2 separate regions of the Homo sapiens genome follow, and region 1 is linked to region 2. Evidence: fine-mapped expression QTL. Tissue or cell type: whole blood. Region 2 holds a variant in brackets; the other region holds the start of a gene. All regions are shown on one strand. Distances are from middle to middle.

Region 1 (9,023 bases), 29 kb after region 2:
CAGAGAGTGGCCCTAAAGAGGTTATGAGAAATGCACACAGCTAGCACAAACTCCCAGGTGTCCTGACTCCAGTCCTTGTGTTGTTATTTTAGCCCTAAAGAGCAATAGTTCTGAAACAAGTTGGAATCACTGGGGAATCTTTAAAAAAATAACAATGCCTGGTCCCAACCTCAGCATTCTGACTCAACTGGTATGGGGTTTGTCCTGGGCGTGCGTGGGGAGCTTTAAAAGCTCTCCAAGTGATTCCAATCTGCGGTAAAGTCCGGGCGGGAACCCTTGGCCTGGGGCAATAGACAACCTCATTACACTATCAAGCACACAGGTGCCTGAAGTACTAGTTTAGAAAAAGTAATTGGGTCGGGGGGTGGCTGAGGCAGGAGAATCGCTGGAACCCGGGAGGCAGAGGTTGCAGTTTGCCGAGATTGTGCCATCGCACTCCAGCCTGGGGGACAAGAGCAAGACTTTGTCTCAAAAAAAAAAAAAAAAAAAAGTAATCTGGGCCGGGCATAGGCGTAGTGGCTCACACCTGTAATCCCAGCACTTTGGGAGGCCAAGACGGGTGATCACCTGAGGTCAGGAGTTCAAGACCAGCCTGGCCAACATGGCAAAACCCCATCTCTACTAAAAATACAAAAATTAGCCGGGCATGGTGGCGGGTGCTTGTAATCCCAGCTACTCGGGAGGCTGAGATAGGAGAATCACTTGAACTCAGGAGGCAGAGGTTGCAGTGAGCCAAGATCATGCCACTGCACTCCAGCCTGGGCGACGGAGCAAGACTCCATCTCAAAATTAAAAAAAAAAAAGGTGTGGAGGGTAGAGATGAAACAAGAATGGCAGAATATTGATAATCACAGAAATTGGGTGGTGAGTATGAAAGGGGCCCATTATACTATTCTAGTTTGTGTATCTTTTACCTTCCAAAATAAAGTTTTTAAAAAGCAATTCAACACAAAGAAGACCATGCTACCAACATAAAAAGTCCAATCAGGATATAAAACTATTAAGGTTTAACTGTAATTTTTCTGGAAATGGTACATCATCAACAAATTAGTTACCCTGGAGGTAAAGCTAATTAACATTAGCAAAGAGCCAGTTCAGAGACAGTGATCATGGGCTCCTTCTGTTAAACAGCGAGCTTACCACTTGCTTTGATAGGCCATTAAAATAGTAACTGCTATATTCCATTGCTAGACACTGAGGGAGGTGCCAATGACCTATGATTTTAGCAACACAAAGGTAAAGCTGTAGTTGAATCTGTTTTTATAGGTTGTTTTTGTTTGTTTGTTTTGTTTTGTTTTGACATGGAGTCTCGCTCTGTCGCCCAGGCTGAAGTGCAGTGGCGCAATCTCGGCTCACTGCAACCTCCACCTCCTGGGTTCAAGTGATTCTCCTGCCTCAGCCTCCTGAGTAGCTGGGATTACAGGTACACACCAACATGCCCAGCTAATTTTTGCGTTTTTAGTAGAGACGGGGTTTCACCATGTTGGTCAGGCTGGTCTCGAACTCCTGACCTTATGATCCGCCTGCCTCAGCCTCCCAAAGTGCTAGGATTACAGGTGTGAGCCACCACACCTGGCCTTTTATAGGTTTTTCAAGTCCCTTCCCATACTCCTTTCTACCCCCCTAATCAGCGACCCATTTTGTGCTTTGGGAGCACAGCTGAGTGTCTCACTGTTTCACTCTCAATAGTCCAATGAGAAAGCCACTTCATCAAACTAATGAAGTATAACAGAAAAAGTCTCAATGCTTTATCAACATTAACTGCGGAAGAAGCTTGGGGTCCAGTGATAGCTTCCACCAATCTAAATAGATAACTGGGGGCCTGTCCCTTATCTTTGACCTTTATTTCCTACTTGATTTGTAAACTGAGGGATTTAGGTTCCAGAAGGTGGAGGGCAACTTAGGAATATGTATTGTAAACCAAAATAAAATTCTAAGCCCACCCCCAACACCCCCCCCCACCCCCGCAACCATCTGAACGGACCCCTACTCTAAGGCAAGGGCATTCCAAAGTTAACCTGAAACACTGGTTCAGGCCATGATGGGAAGAGGGGATCAGACATGCCTCATTATATATCCTCTCCTCCTTTTTGGAATTCAGGAAAAGCCAACCAGCATTAACGTCAATACAGACCTTAAGTCTGATAAGAAACACTTACAATGTATTCTCTCTAAAGCCTGCTACCCAGAGGCTTCATTTGCATAATAAAATCTTGGTCTCCACTACCCCTTATCATAACCCAGACATTCGTTTCTATTGATAATAACTCAACCAATTGCCAATCAGAAAATTTTTCAATCTACTTATGACCTGGAAGCCCCCCACGCCCTTCGAGGTGTCCCTCCCTTCTGGATTGAGCCATCATAAATCTTACATGTATTAATTCATGTATTATTCTCCCTAAATTGTATAAAAGCAAGCTGTTCCCCAACCACCTTGGGCACAGGTCTTCAGAACCTCCTGAGGCTGTGTCATGGGTGCATTCTTAACCTTGGCAAAATAAACTTTCTAAATTGACTGAGACCTGTCTCAGATACTTTGGGGTTCACAGTATCAAGGGCCTTAAAAATGTTTATACCCTTGAGCCCAACAGTTCTATTTCACTTTCAACAGTCTAATGAGAAAGCCACTTAGTCAAACTGATTGAGAATAACAAAAAAAGTATAAATGCTTCACTTTCAACAGTTCTAATTCCTACTTCTAGACAGGGAGCCCAAGGAAATAAGAGATAGAACAAAGGGACTCCCTTTGCAATGATAAAACAAAACAAAACATCAGAAAAACAAAAAACTAATAGGAGAAAAATAAATTATGGTCATTCATGTGATGCATTATTTTGCAACATAAGACAATTATGAGGCCAGGTGCGGTGGCTCACACCTGTAATCCCAGCACTTTGGGAGGCCAAGGCGGGCAGATTGCCTGAGCTCAGGAGTTCAAGATCAGCCTAGGCAACACGGTAAAACCCTGTCTCTACTAAAATACAAAAAATTAGCTGGGCGTGGCTGCGTGCGCCTGTAGTCCCAGCTACTCCAGAGGCTGAGGCAGGAGAGTTGCTTAAGCCCAGGAGGTGGAGGTTGCAGTGAGCCATGATCGCGCCATTGCACTCCAGCCTGGGTGACAGACAGAGCAAGACTCCGTCTCAAAAAAAAAAAAAAGAAGAAAAGAAAGTTATGCTTTCAAAGAATGTCCAATGACATAGAGAAATGCTGTTTATATTATATATATATATAAAAATATAGATTAAAATAACAAATTCATTGTAAAAAAATCATTAATGGCTATTTCCAAATTATAGAGTTAAAGATGCTATTTATTTTCCTTTTTGCAAATTTTCAATATTCTCTAAATTGAATATTCTCTATCAAGGGGTGTATATAACTGTTAAAATTAGGGATTTTGGGGTTTTTTATTTTTTTTTGAGACGGAGTTTCGCTCGTGTTGCCCAGGCTGGAGTGCAATGGCACGATCTCAGCTCACCACAACCTACACCTCCCGGGTTCAAGCGATTCTCCTGCCTCAGTCTCCCGAGTAGCTGGGATTACAGGCATGTACTACCATGCCCGGCTAATTTTGTATTTTTAGTAGAGACGGGGTTTCTCCATGTTGGTCAGGCTGGTCTCGACCTCCCGACCTCAGGTGATCTGCCTGCCTCGGCCTCCCAAAGTACTGGGATTACAGGCGTGAGCCACCACCGCGTCCGGCCTAAAATTAGGTTTAAAAAAGTAAATGCTAAATTAAATAATTGGCCCAAATAACCTAGATTCCAGGTAACTCAACTTTGTTCTTGGAATCCATTCTTCTAATATCCAGGATGTGGGCAACTTAAACAATTATAAACTATATTAGAAATAACAACATAAGACACATATTCCAACAAGAACGTTATAGAGCTGTAATATGTTTTTAATTATTAAGCAGAAAGGTCAAGTCTATGTTCAATAACAATACGTTCCTTGGGATCAAACAATATGTTCCTTGGGATCAAAAGTTGCATCTTTCATCATGCAGTCCTTGGGATTAACTGCTAAATAAATCACCCTTATCAGCTATTGTTTTACTGCAGAAGCTACTGCTAAAGGAAAAGACTTCATGATATTAACTCAAGAAAGTGCAAAATGCCTTATAAACAAGTGCACAATTTCCCTCCCAGGTTCCTGTATCTGGAAGGGCCCCCAAGATCTAGGTCTTAGCCCCAGCTGGTTACTAACTGGCTGGTGGCCATGGATTCTGAACCTCGGTTTCTCCACCTGTGAAATAAGGGGGTTTACCGGGATGGACTGACATGCTACAAAAACGTTATTTCGACTTCACTTTTATAGGAGTCCAGGGAAGCCTGCACCAGCCAGCTAGCTCCAAAACCAGGATGGGCGGGAAATCCCCGCAACGAGATGCAGCCCAGAAAAGCTAAAGGAATATTCAGAGATTTGGCGTAAGTCCTCAGCTCTCCAGCGGACCACCTGGTCTCCTTCCCGGGCCACCCTTGCAAGGACCAAGTGTGGCGGGATGTGGCTGAGCCCCCTCAGTAAAGGAAAGGTCTCGCTGCCCCTCCCCTCATCCCGAAAGGCCACCAGCGGCAATGCGAAGTGATTGCCTGCTCTCCGGAAGCCCGGCCTCCCCGAAGGTCCCTCCACGCACCGCCGCCCTCACCCGGGACTCACCAGGGGTCCGGTGCCATCCTGCAGACTCCGCCCGCCGCTCGGACTCTTCCTGCTCTTAGCAGCTGACTACGGCGGCCCGCGCGGCTCACTCCCCGCAGTTCGTCCCGTGCGCGACCGGAGCCTGGAGTTTGCAAAGTGAGTAGCTAGGGCCTCAGAACTATAATCAGAGAAAGCAAAGCGCTCCCCTGCGGACAGTACACTGGAGCAATCTACTCCCACCAAGAGACGCGAACTGCTAAGCTCAGTTAAAATTGTTAAATAGAAACAAAGCATTTTCCCAGGAAGGTGGGAGCGCTGCAAGACCTCTCTGTAGCAGTTACTTAAAAATTTATCCTGCTTCAAAAACAAAACAATAAACAAAACACTAGATTGCGGTGAGACTTGCACGCTGCGTAAACTCACTACAACCTACTTTAAGTTAACTTTATGATATGTAAATTATACCTCAACGCTTTTTAAAAAATCTTTAAAATTTTTTTCACACTGCTCCAAACAGGGGCCCAAAGAAGTATCAATTATATATATTTTTTATAGCAGCCTTCCTATCAGTCCTGTACGCCTGATTACATATTTTTTAAATGCCATTCATTCGGTGCTTGATTTTAGAGTTACTAAGAAGTCACAGACTCTACACAAGGGGATGGAGGAATTAGTTCTGCGCAGTTAGTGCCATCCCCTAAATTTCCAGAGAAATAGCACAAAAAAAAAGAAGAGGAGTCCCACCCCATCTCTCTTCCAGTCCCCATACCCCTTCATTTCCAAGAATGCTAATGAACTCGAACTCGGCAGGCTGGGTTTCTGCGCGGGCGTGGAGCTGGAGCGCATGCGCTCGTCCGTTACCATAACGACCAGAAGACGCTGCAGCCACTAGGGAGGAGAGCAAAGTAATCAGAACCTCCCAAGGATGGATAACAAAATTTCGCCGGAGGCCCAAGTGGCGGAGCTGGAACTTGACGCCGTGATCGGCTTCAATGGTGAGGCCTCCAGCATCTTTGGGCTGGCTGGTTTAGGAATTCGGAGGACGTGTAGTGCAAACAGGAATAGTGAGACACCGGGGACACCTGAAAGGCAGTGTGGGACAACGGCAGGAGCCCTGGCCAGGGACACGCACAGGAGGACCCGCACAGCCTGACCTGCCCCAAGGCCTTGGAGAGTCACTTCCTCGATCCAAGCCTCAGGGAGTGAGATGGTTTTTACCAGCTCGGACAAGCGCCAGCACCTAAAAGGGACCAAATGCCTCTTCCCCAGGCGGGCCGGATGAGTACGGGTGGTTGTAACCCTTCTCCCACTAGGTCAGCCCTTCCTGGCTCTGAACCCCACGCCGCTCGCAAAGCCCTAGGCTCCTTCGTAACCACACAGAAGGATGCTGTCTGTGTCGGCCCCTGGGACCAGCTAGGAAATCTGCTAAAATCCCAACTGGCGTACCAGTGAGAAAGGGCTGGGAGGGAACGTGTGTTTGAGCAACCCCCTGAGGGGATGTTGTTGGTCCTCTAATCCTAAGGAAGGTTTCTAAATGATGAGGATTTCAGACCAGGACAGAAGGGGAAGGGGACGCCAGGGGGAGCTAAAGCGGAGAGAAAAAGGGACTGGGCCGCTCCGCTGAAATCTTATTTGTGACTGCCTATTGTTTTGAAGATTCTGGGAAGAAAAAGCTGTGGGGTTTTATTGTTCGTTTTGAGGGGTTTTGGTTTTTTGAGGGATGAGAAAACAATGAATTAGATTTTAGGAGAAGCAAAACTTTTCAAAAATGTGTGTTGTGATGCCTGAAAGCTTTAAGAATGTGGATGCAGAACAATCACTGTCTAAAGTTTTAAGCATACTCTAGGACTTAGCTCTTGACTCTTGGTTTAACTTTAACAGTCTCCAATAGAAAGTGAGTGCTTTATACATTTCGGATATCAGATATCTTGAGAGTTGGTTACAAGATCATTGAGAAACAATTGAGCAGCCTACAGTGGGTTGCATAATGTCACTTGTTGAGCCAATGTAGAACCACACACATAGAACTCTGCAACTGAGGCCGGGGGCAGTGGCTCATGCCTGTAATCCCAGCGCTTTGGGAGGCCAAGGCAGGTAGATCACCTGAGGTCAGGAGTTCGAGACCATCCTGTCCAACATGGTGAAATCCCATCTATACTAAAAATACAAAAATTATCCGGGCGTGGTGGTAGGTGCCTGTAATCCCAGCTACTTGAGAGGCTGAGGGAGGAGAATCACTTGAACTTGGGAGGCAGAGGTTGCAGTGAGCCAAGGTCACGCCACTGCACTCCAGCCTGGGGGACAGAGCGAGACTCCGTCTCAAAAAATAAATAAATAAATAAACAAACAAACATACATATTCAACAGGTTATAGGAGGAGCTATGAATACTCATGAAGGTGGTCCCAACACATGTGTATTGAACAAACATTGATGTAATATATCACTCATATTCACCTTGGGATGGAGACCTAACATTTAAATGTATTACAATTAGGTCCTATATGTCAAAAGGCCTTTTCAGGACATGACGGCACGTTAAGTGGGAAGCCTCAGTAAACTGGCCAGAGGTAGTCCGTGGTGAGTGGTCTTCTTGCCAGGAGAACATTACTGAAATCACTCTGTTGTCCAATCAAAATTGTTCTTATGGCGGGTTGAACAGGGCTTCAGTTAGTAAGTGCCTATGAACTGGACAGGTTGCAGTTGTTTTCATATTGCTTATCTCAAGATAAGTGCTTGTTTAGCTGCCAGAGAAAAAGAAAAACCTTGTGGCAGTGTATAGTTTATTTTATTTATTTATTTTGAGACGGTGGAGTCTCGCTCTGTTGTGTAATGGCACAATCTCGGCTCACTGCAACCTCCACCTCCTGGATTCAAGCTATTCTCCTGCCTCAGCCTCCAGAGTAGCTGGGATTATAAGCACCCACCACCACGCCTGGCTAATTTTTGTATTCTTAGTAGAGACGGGGTTTCACCAAGTTGGCCAGACTAGTCTCCAATTCCTGACCTCAGGTGATCCACCCGCCTTGGCCTCCCAAAGTGCTGGGATTACAGGCTTGAGCCACCACACCCAGCCACAGGGTGGAGGGGTGCATGGCCTTAGGTCCTGTTTATAATTTGATATCTTATTGCCACACAGTCTGTCAATCTTATGATCTCTATTTTAACATTAATGCTGATCAGTTGTGTCTAAACCACAAAAGAGAGGGGGTATAATGAGGCATGTCTGACCTCCCATTCCGTCAAGGCTGGGAACTCTGCTTTAAGGTGTTTTGGGGGTCCCTTTGTCCAAAAGGGGATCTGTTCAGTCAGTGGCTGGGGTGGGGCAGCGTGGGGATTGGGGAGCTTATGATTTTATTTTTAGTTTACAAAAGTGATTGAGTTTTCTGTATTTTGTCTTCACTGAAAAATGTTTATTTTAAAAAACTATACTAGCTCTAAAAAAAAGAGGGAGAGAGAGAAAAGACAGAACTTTCATAAGGCTCGGGAGAGAAGATTTTGACTAGGAGTCAGCGGGTAAAGATTGAAGGCAGAATATTTCGGGTTACAGCAATAGCGGGGGGCAGAGGAGGAAAAGTGGAGAGTGCAGGGCCTGGTTGCAGAACGGCAAATAGCTTGGGGTGGCTTCAGTATCAGGGACTGGCAGGATAACACAGGAAAGAGAAGCTGGAATTAGATTTCAGAGGCCTTAAATGCCAAGTGATTGAGTTTAGATTTCAGATGGAAACAAATTAGAAACAAAAGCAAGGCCCCTTTTTTCACTGCAACACTGAAACTCACTATAGTGTTACATTATTCAACTTGAATTTTGTTTTTGAGATGGAGTCTCACCCTGTCTCCCAGGCTGGAGTGCAGTGGTGCGATCTCAGCTCACTGCAACCTCTGCCTCATGGGTTCAAGTGATTCTCCTGCCTCAGCCTCCCAAGTAGCTGGGATTACAGGTATCCACCACCACGCCTGGCTAATTTTTGTATTTTTAATAGACACGGTGTTTCGCCACGTTGGCCAGGCTGGTCTTGAACTCCTGACCTCAGGTGATCCACCCGCCTCGGCCTCCCAAAGTGCTGGGATTACAGGCGTGAGCCACTGCGACTGGCCTTAAACTTGAATTTTAACTTTATGGTATCAATATGTAACTGTACTTGACACTTGTAGGTATTGCATTTTGGCAGGAATTAATTATTTAAGCAAACCAAATATACTTGTGTTAAAAACATTTAATAAAGTTATAGTTATTAAGGGTTTGGTCACATTCATCCATTGACTGGAGTAGGTAGCCCATGATTTTCCTATTATGGTATACAAAGAGTTCTTGTAAACTAAAAACAGCAACAACAACAAAATAGATCAGGAGTCTACAAACTATAGCCCATGGGCCAAATC
Region 2 (10,420 bases):
AAGCAGACACGGAACAAATGAGATGTGGAAGAGGAGAATGGAGGGCAGAGGACCAGGTGCAGCGTATGATGGGGTCAGACAGACCACGTCCTTCTAGAGCAATCAGGGGGCAGGGCACGAGGGACAGAAGATCTCCGAAGCAATGAGGCAGCCTGAGTTCCCTCCTAGCCGGATGGAGACACAATGCTCCAGTAATAACATCTTGTATTTATAAAGGTCTTAGAGTTTACAAAGCCTGTCTCATAGCAATCACTTCATCTGGTCCTAACAACAACGAAAAATGGGCAGCACATGTATCCCCAGTCTAAGGTCAATGACTTCAAAGCCCACATGACTGACAGACTAGAAAGCTACAGAACTGGGTCCTTCTAACACCTCATCCAGCTCTTTTTATGGTGCAATGGTTACAAGTTCAGAGCTAAAATCCAAGTTCTATGACTGATTAGCTTTAGAATCTTGAACCCTCTGAGCCTGTTTCTCTTCTGCAAAATGGGGCATTATAAAGAGCTCCTGAGCAAATGCACATAAAGAGCTTAGCACAGTGCCTACCATATAAAAAACAAATAGCAGACATAAGCTATAGGTCTCATGACTAGTACACTGTGACATAGAGCAGTCGTTCTAACCCTGCCACCTACTAAAACCACCCGGTAGTCTCCCCAGCCTTACTGCTGCCCAGGCCTCACCCAAGACTATGAATCAGACTCTGCAAGTACATGGTCTAAACATTTGTATTTTTTTTTTTTTTTCCATTCTCTCTTGGGTGATTCTGATGCAAAGTGCCACGATTAAGAATAAATGACACAGGCCAGGTGTAGTGGCTCATGGCTGTAATCCCAGCGTTTTGGGAGGCTGAGGCAGGCAGATCACCTGAGGTCAGGAGTTCAAGACCAGCCTGGCCAACATGGTAAAACCTCATCTCTACCAAACATACAAAATTAGCCAGGCGTGGTAGTGCGTGCCTGTGATCCCAGCTACTCGGGAGGCTGAGGCAGGAGAATCACTTGAACTCGGGAGGCGGAGGTTGCAGCGAGCTGAAATTGTGCCACTGCACTCAAGCCTGGGTGACACAGCAAAACTCCGTCTCAAAAACAAAACAAACAAAAACAACAACAAAAAAACAAGGGCCGGGAGCTGTGGCTCACGCCTGTAATCCCAGCACTTTGGGAGGCCGAGGCAGGCAGATCACGAGGTCAGGAAATCGAGACCATCCTAGCTAACATGGTGAAACCCTGTCTCTACTAAAAATACAAAAAATTAGCCGGGCATGGTGGCGGGCGCCTGTAGTCCCAGCTACTCGGGAGGCTGAGGCAGGAGAGTGGTGTGAACCTGGGAGGCGGAGCTTGCAGTGAGCCAAGATTGCGCCACTGCACTCCAGCCTGGGCGACAGAGCAAGACTCCATCTCAAAAAATAAATAAATAAATAAATAAATAAATAAATAAGGAATAAATGATACAAAGCAGTTATTTCTTAAATTGTAATGTGCATTCAAATCACCTGATGATCTTGTTAGAATGCAAGTTTTAATTCTGTAGTTTGGGGTTCGGGTTGGAAAATTCTGAGTTTGTAACACACTGCCAGGTGATGCTGATGCTGCTTATCAGCAAGTCACACTGTAAAGGACACAGAGATGATCAGAGAAGAGGGGTGACAAAGGCAGGCAAGCGGGGACCAAAAACTAACAAAACAAACAAGGACCTGGTGGGAAGACTTCAGAGGTCCTCAGCCTAAATTCCTAGGTTGGCCCCTTCAGCATCATTAAGTGGCACAATTAATGAGAAGCAAAGAGCAGAGTCTGGTGCAAAACATGCTCTTCTCAAATGGGAACCATGACTATTCATCACGACTGCCTCATCACTACCAAGCAGAATAGTCTGAATGTTTTGTCCTCTTTCTGACCATCATCTGTCTACATGACCACTATTCCTCCATGAAACAAGCTCCCCGTCCTACCTATGTCCTTATTAATTTCTTGACTAAAAAGACTCTGCCTTCAGTGTAAAGCCCCTTCTAGAAGACAGTTTTTTGGTTTTTTTTTTTGAGACGGAGTCTTGCTCTGTCGCCCAGGCTGGAGTGCAGTGGCGTGATCTCGGCTCACTGCAACCTCCACCTCCCAGGTTCAAGCAATTCTCCTGCCTCAGCCTCCTGAGTAGCTGGGACTACAGGTGCCCGCCACCACAACGGCTACTTTTTTGTTGTTGTTGTTGTATTTTAGTAGAGATGGCATTTCACCTTGTTGCCCAGGCTGGTCTCAAACTCCTGAGCTCAGGCAATCCACCCACCTTGGCCTCCCAAAGTGCTAGGCTTACAGGCGTGAGCCACTGCACCCAGGCGACAGTACTTTCTTTTCACCTTTGATTCCTTTGCTCACCTGTTCTCTTTGACCAACCTGGACCACCACCTTCATCCACATACTTCACCCCTGTACCCTGGGACTGAATATGCCAGGGAAATATTGGGAACCACAGTAGATTGGCCCAGCACAGGCTTCTATCTTCATTTAAACCCTGCCCAGGAGACTGCCAACAGAGTATCACCCCTCCCTAACTGACTCTTAGGTTCATTTCTTCACAGAAGCAACTTAACATTTCATCTACCTTCCTGTATTTCACAGTTTCTTCATGGAACCTTGGATCGCCGCTCCTGAGAAGACTGGAACCCACAGGAAAATCAGTTTCATTTTCTTCAGCTTGTTCTAGGCAGTTGTTTGCAATCTGGGTTGTATATTAGAATCACCTGAGACCTCCCTGCCCCTCTGCCCCTCCACCGCAATCCCACTCTGGTTCACCTGTCAGAGGTGGAGTCTGACAATGCACGGCTAGGGTCCAAAACCACTGCCCTTGGGAAGCCACACTATTCCTAACTGGAAACCAACTAGAAACAAGCTCCTCTCCACGATAAATGCATCAACCCTAGCGTGGAAGATGAGGAGAGGCGGGTTTCCACCCAAGCTCATTGCCTTCTGTGATGGTTCCCACGATGAAGCTAAGGAAGTTCTAGAAACAGGGGGAGGCCAATTCTAAAGAGGTAGCAATTTACGGTTCATCAACCTCAGCCTTGGAAAGCCCGACCCGTCCTCCAGGTCTTCCAGCAGAACCGGGCTCAGAGCAGCTGTCAGCTCTTTGAAGTGTGAATCACTCACTGGCGAAGAATGGGGAGGAGGATCCAACTCCTTTGCCTCTGTGAGCCCCGGACCAGTCTTATTAGGACTCATGTTCTCAATATGCCAATTAAAAAAAAAAACAAAAAACTGCTTTGCCCACACAGAGAAGTAGTGACCTCAGGAGTTTAGAAGGCAGTTAACAAAGCAGAAAACTCAACCAAAGAATGCCAAAGAAATGTTCTGACTTCACCCACAGTCTCCCTTAGTATGTTCCACCCAAGATGGGATTCAGCTGAACATACCTGGTTTACTAAACCCAGAAAATTAACGAAAACTGGCCGGGCGCAGTGGCTCACACCTGTAATCCCAGCACTTTGGGAGGCCAAGGCGGGCGGATCACGAGGTCAGGAGATCGAGACCATCCTGACTAATACGGTGAAACCCCATCTCTACTAAAAATACAAAAAATTAGTCGGGCACGGTGGCGGTGGGCGCCTGTAATCCCAACTACTTGGGAGGCTGAGGCAGTAGAATGGTGGAAACCTGGGAGGTGGAGCTTGCAGAGAGCCAAGATCACGCCACTGCACTCCAGCCTGGGTGACAGAGCGAGACTCTGTCTCAAACAAACAAACAAAAATTAACGAAAACTAAATTGAGTAGAAAATTATAGTCAAACACCATAAATGAATAGAATAGATTTTGATTAATTCCTAAAGTAAGCCATTCAGGAAACAGCTGTAGTATCTGCAAAGAAGTCTTCGCCCACCAAGTAATCCCTGTAAATAAAAACATCCTACCTGATTAGATCTGGTTCGGCACCCTCATTCTTAAAGGATGCCAGAAGTAGTCTCTCTCGAGTTACAAGATCATCCAAGAGGTTCTGTCTTCGGTCCCCTTCAAGCTGTGTTCTGCAGATATCTTGTTAAGGTTCAATGGTGAATAAATGACCTCGTTTTAACTATTACATTATTAAGTTAGCTCTTCAAGTCAGTTGTGGCTTTTACAGACTGTAATCACTACTACCCAGAAGGGATGCGCACCACTCTTGCGTTTTTCCTGCTCTGACCTTCACCTTCACCAGGCCGTCAGGTAAAGGACCTTGGCAGGACCATCGCAGAGGCACTTATAAACACTGACGTGGATCATGACACAAGTTTTTCATTGAGAAATATACCAGGTAAATATTACTTTCCTCCCCGTGACCAAACTTATTTACTTATTTTTGAGACAGAGTCTCGCTCTGTCGCCCAGGCTGGAGTGCAATGGCGCGATCTCGGCCCACTGCAACCTCTGCCTCCCGGGTTCAAGCAGTTCTCCTGCCTCAGCCTCCCGAGTAGCTGGGCTTACAGACGTGCACCACCACAACCGGCTAAGTTTTGTATTTTTATTAGAGACGGGTTTTTGCCATGCTGGCCAGGCTGGTCTCGAACTCATGACCTCAGGTGATCTGCCTGCCTTGGCCTCCCAAAGTGCTGGAATTACAAGGCGTGAGTCACCACGCCCAGCCCCAGTGACCAAATTTAAATGACTT[C/T]TCCTGCCAATGGTGCAACCTGGCTCAGTGATTCCTTAGGTTTTGAGTTATATGTGTGTGTCAGTGTTCCAGGGCATTTTCCTACATATTAATACCCTAAGATGCTCTGTTTAAAAAAGTGGGGGCGCTGGGGGAGAGAAGTTCTCTATATTGCTCTCTTTCTTCCATGTTAATATCTATTAACACACCTAGGATATTTATAAAGTGCTACTTTATGCAACAGATTTGCTCTATAAATTGTTACCATCAGTTCACTATTTAAATACATTGCATGATTTGTAAAGAAAATTACAAAGAGAATCATTTTAATGTGTGAATCTAGCAAACACGCTAGACTAGGAGCCCCAGAGGCAGAGTTGTAGCCCTATTCCACTATCTATGCTCTTGAACCAGTTATTTCACCTTTTGGGATCTCTCTTTCTTTATATGTAACACTAAATAGTCTCTAACATCTTTTCCACAACAATTCATAAGTGATGGTTAAAAAAAAAAAACCAAACAACCATCCTTCTGGGAAATGTAGTCTTTGGAAAGAAACCTACAATTCACCAATAGGTGGACGAGAATGCGGCGCGTGCGCATGAAGCAAAAAGGGAAGTGGCGTCTGTCAACAACCGGCGCCACTTCCCTTGGACTAAGTACAAAGTTTTATATACTAGCTTTCTTGATGCAAACTACAAAAGTGGTTTTTTTTTTTTTTTTTTTTTTTTGGAGACGGAGCCTTGTTCTGTCTACAGGCTGGAGTGCAGTGGCGCGATCTCGGCTCACTGCAACCTCCGCCACCCGGGTTCAAGCGATTCTCCTGCCTCAGCCTCCTGAGTAGCTGGGACTACAGGCACGTGCCACCACGCGCAGCTAATTTTTTGTATTTTTGGTAGAGACAGGTTTTCACCATGTTGGCCAGGATGGTCTCGATCTCTTGACCTCATGATCCGTTCACCTCAGCCTCCCAAAGTGCTGGGATTACAGGTGTGAGCCAGTGCGCCCAGACACAAGTTTTTGTTTGTTTGTTTTTAGGCTGAACTGTGTCTATGTGTGTGGTATGTTAAGAAACACAGAAGGGCTGGACGCGGTGGCTCAACGCCTGTAATCCCAGCACTCTGGGAGGCTGAAGTGGGCGGATCACAAGGTCAAGAGATGGAAACCATCCTGGCAAACACGGTAAAACCCCGTCTCTACTAAAAATATAAAAACTAGCCAGGCGTGGTGGCGTGCGCCTGTAGTCCCAGCTACTCGGGAGGCTGAGGCAGGAAAATCGCTTGAACCCGGGAGGCGGAGGTTGCAGTGAGCCGAGATCGCGCCACTGCGCTCCAGCCTGGTGAAAGAGCGAGACTCTGTCTCAAAAAAAAAAAAAAAAAAAAGAAAAAAGAAACACAGTAAAGGATATGTTTGGAAACAACTTCTGCCATAAAATGAATGAGTGGAGAAAGCTAACAAACACTTTTAAAATATATCTGGCCAGGTGTGGTGGCTTACGCCTGTAATCCCAGCAGGTCAAGGCAGGTGGATCACGAGGTCAGGAGTTCGAGACCAGCCTGACCAATATGGTGAAACCCCATCTCTACTAAAAACACAAAAATTAGCTGGGCATGGTGGCGCACAATCGCAGCTACGCAGGAGGCTGAGGCAGGAGAATCACTTGAACCCGGGAGGCGGAGGTTGCAGTGAGCCGAGACTGTGCCACTGCACTCCAGCCTGGGTGACAGAGCAAGACTCCGTCTCAAAAAAAAAAAAGAAAAAAGAAAAGAAAAGAAAAGAAATACACACTAAAACAAGATACCACTTCCACCTATCAGATTAGGAAACTGAGAAGACAGTTTTGGAAAGGGACAAGGAACCAGACACTCTCATACATTCTTTCCTTTTCTTTTCTTTTCTTTTTTTTTTTTTTGTTTTGTTTTGTTAAGATGGAGTCTTGCTCTATCATCCCAGGCTGAAATGCAGTGTTGCAACCTTGGCTCACTGCAACCTCCACTACCTGGGTTCAAGCAATTCTCCTCTCAGCTCCCCAAGTAGCAGGGATTACAGGTGTCCACCACCACACCCAGCTAATTTTTGTGGGTTTTTTTGAGAGACAGGATTTCACCATGTTGGCCAGGCTGGTCTCAAACTCCTAATCTAAAGTGACCCTCCTGCCTCCCAAAGTGCTGGGATTACAAGCATGAGCCACTTCACCTGACCTTATACATTCTTTCTTTATTATTATTATTATTTTTTGAGACAGTGTCTCCCTCTGTCGCCCAGCCTGGAGTGCAGTGGCATGATCTTGGCTCACTGCAACCTCCAGCTCCAGAGTTTAAGCAATTCTCCTGCCTCAGCCTCCCAAGTAGCTGGGATTACATGCACATGCCACCATGCCCAGCTAATTTTTGTGTTTTCAGTAGAGATGGGGTTTCACCATGTTGTCCAGGCTGGTCTCGAACTCCTGACCTCAAGTGATCCACCCACCTCGGCCTCCCAAAGTGCTGGGATTACAGGCATGAGCCACCATACCCGGCCACCTCATACATTCTTGATAGGAATGCAAACAGGTTCAACCAACTGCTAGACTGCCTTCTAAATACCTAACAAAATATAAAAGGTACAGTCTTTCAACAGACATTTCTTCCTCAGATACAGTCCTACAAGGACTTAGAAGCAAGGATGTCCACTGAACCATTATTTATAATAGCCACATTGGAAATATCAATAAGTAACTAGTGTATGTAAACAATGGAATGTTTTGCAGCCTTAAAAAAAGAATAGGAAAGCTGTTTAGGGGGCTGATAATGATAATTAACATTTTTGAGCACTTACTAAGTGTTTACATGAATTATTTGACATGGAATAATCTACAAAATATAACATTAAACCAAAGGAGGGGAAAAAAACAGCAGCAGCAAGGAGCTAAACAGTGAGTAGTGTGCTCCCACTTTGTTAAAAAAAAATCCTAACTATATATGTGTGTATATACACACAGAAAATTTCTGATATATAAACATTGCCTCTAAGGAAGGACAACTGAGGATTAAGGGTATAAGAGAGACTGATGTTTCACTGAATATTGTTTCCTAATGTTTGTCTCTATCATCTGCTAATTAATAAAAACACAAGCTTCAGAACCATATGTATAATATAATCCCTTTATAGTCAAAGGAATTTTATGTTTACATATGCATATATTTCAAGCCTAGAAAAGTCTGAGATACTAGCTACCAACCATTAACACTTAACTATAAAGAATGAGATGAGACAGGATAGAATAAGGAAGAGAAAGAGGAGTCATTGGTAATAACTAATGAGAAATGTATCAGTAGAAAGTATAATATTTTTTGTAATAAAAACAATAAAGGTACATTTTAAAATCAGCAGATACTAGTTACAGATTTAAACTTACGTCAAGAAGGAGCTAACAAAGAACATCAGTTTCAGAAACAGTAAAACTTGATGACTATGTTTTGTAGATGAGTAACCAAAGAACAGAAACCCACACAGTTGATGCTAGAAGAGGCCTTAAAGATCCCAGTTCTCTTGTTTTGCTGACCAGAAATTAAGGGTGAGCATGGCTAAGTCACTTGCCTGGGTTAACAGCCATGCTAGGTGACAGCTCTTTCAACCCTAGCTCATGGCTTTTCCACCAAACATTCTGCAGACTTCTCCACCTTGAGATGCTGACTTAACTTTGCCACTTCTTAGAATCCTGATAAAAACAATACTGGGAGTACGAATTCAGAATATTCCCAGAGACTCTGTAAATCTGGAAAACAATCCAATTAGGAACATGCTGCCTCTTTGTTTTATATTTTAATCTACGGAGAGAACAGAGCATAAGGAGATGGGGAGGAGGGAGATGGAATGAGAATAAATTGATTAATGAACCATCTGCATAGCACCCTTGCTATGTAAGGGTTGTTATTAGTAAGAGGTCAAAGGATCATCCAGGAAACAATCTATACAGCATGTATGTGGACAGGTGCGTAGCAGTTGGGTAAAGTAGGGTAGTGGGGAAACAGTGTGCCTGAGTGATGCTAAGGACAAGTAGAAAGTAGGACACACAGGCCAAGCGCGGTGGCTCAAGCCTGTAATCCCAGCACTTTGGAAGGCTGAGGCAGGCGGATCATGAGGTCAGGAGTTCGAGACCAGCCTGGACAACACGGTGAAACCCCATCTGTACTAAAAAAATACAAAAATTAGCTGGGTGTGGTGGCACACGCCTGTAGTCCCAGCTACTCAGGAGGCTGAGGCAGGAGAATCGCTGGAACCCGGGAGGCAGAGGTTGCAGTGAGCCAAGATCGTGCCACTGCACTCCAGCCTGGGCAACAAAGTGAGACTCCATCTCAAAAAAAAAAAAAAGTAGTACAGCACACAGTCAGTGGCCAGTGCTGGGGAACCTCCTCTTCCACCAACCTGGTGAATAGCCAAGGAAGAAGATAAGAGAACAGACAGATAAAGAAAAGGAAGAGAAGAGCTAACTATCATAGTACTTTGTCCTTGGCTATGCTGATTGTACATGTAATTATAGCCAATTCATGGATATGTAAGGTTGTAAATAAAACTGGATCCCCTGTAGTCCCAGCTACTCGGGAGGCTAAGGCAGGAGAATGGCGTGAACCCGGGAGGTGGAGCTTGCAGTGAGCCAAGATCGTGCCACTGCACTCGAGCCTGGGTGACACAGCGAGACTCCATCTCAAAAAATAAATAAATAAAAATAAAAATAAAACTGGATCCTGATTTCATATTACTGATACCTACTACCAGCATGCATAAGTCCAGCTTCTCTGCTGTAGCCTGGTGAGCATTTGAACCACAGATGGAGCGGGGTAAATATGCAACTGGATCCACAGGTCACCCAATCCCACTCCAGCTCCTGGATTTTCTCTTATATTTGGTAGAAGGCTTAAGAATTTAGGCTGGGCACAGTCGCTCACACCTGTAATCCCAGCACTTTGGGATGTTGAGGTGGGTGAATCACCTGAGGTCAGGAGTTTGAGACCAGCCTGGCCAACATGGCAAAACCCCATCTCTACCAAAAACACAAAAATTAGCCAGGTGTAGTGGTGCACACCTGTAATCCCAGGTACTTGGGAGGCTGGGGTAGGAGAATCGCTTGAACCTGTGAGGCGGTGGTTGCAGTGAGCTGAGATCGCACCATTGTGCTCCAGACTGGGCAACAAGAGTGAAACTCCGTCTCAAAAAAAAATAGAATTTAGGTAAGCCTTATTTTGTGAAAGAGCTGCTCTGGCGAAGGAAGAAGTTTGCAGATAATTAATTCTCCATGCCAAAAAAGAAGAACTGCAAGGGAACAGTTTAAGGTTCTAGAGGTCAAAAGACTTTTCTGGCTTTCTTTTTTTAAGTCAACAAACTCTAATAAATATTTATGATGTACCAGGCCAAGTCCTTACCTTCCTCAAAGCACTGATCACATTTTGCAAGTACTATTTTAATACCATCATTGTTTGTGAGTTTTGACATAACCATCATGCATGATTAAAAACTCCACAAAGAAAGGATGACCTGTAAATTCTCAATGGTAGCTGAAATCTTTACAATAATGATAAAATAATCAATAGCAGCTAATCCTCAAGGAGGACTTAGTATATGTGAAGCACCCTGTATGCATATAATCTCATCCTTACACAACAATCCTTTACGCCAGGTGGACTTCTAGCATCCCATTCCACAAATGAGGCACAAAGAGGTTAAGTAACTTCCCCAGGGGTGTTGGTAACCACCTTTTATTCAACACCCACCATTATGGGGGGCTAGTCCTGTGAAGAAAAAAGATTTTCTTCAACTTGTACAATAA

The links. PIP is the estimated chance that this variant, and not a neighbour inherited with it, causes the effect.
Region 1: STX8 starts here. The variant in region 2 is fine-mapped to the expression of STX8 in whole blood (TOPMed, PIP above 0.99).

The regions. Positions count from the first base shown.
Region 1 is chr17:9,571,130-9,580,152 of GRCh38, forward strand. It overlaps STX8 (syntaxin 8), which reads right to left and starts at 4,691. Exons shown (of 8, transcript NM_004853.3): 1 at 4,663-4,691. The coding sequence starts at 4,679. CFAP52 (cilia and flagella associated protein 52) reads left to right here and starts at 5,513. Exons shown (of 14, transcript NM_145054.5): 1 at 5,513-5,636. The coding sequence starts at 5,567. RefSeq lists enhancers at 4,674-4,853, 5,646-5,775.
Region 2 is chr17:9,541,271-9,551,690 of GRCh38, forward strand. STX8 (syntaxin 8) reads right to left here. Exons shown (of 8, transcript NM_004853.3): 4 at 3,902-4,012. Among named protein-coding and RNA genes, the nearest start is that of STX8, 29 kb to the right of the region's middle. The variant C/T (reference allele first, on the strand shown) is at 4,636.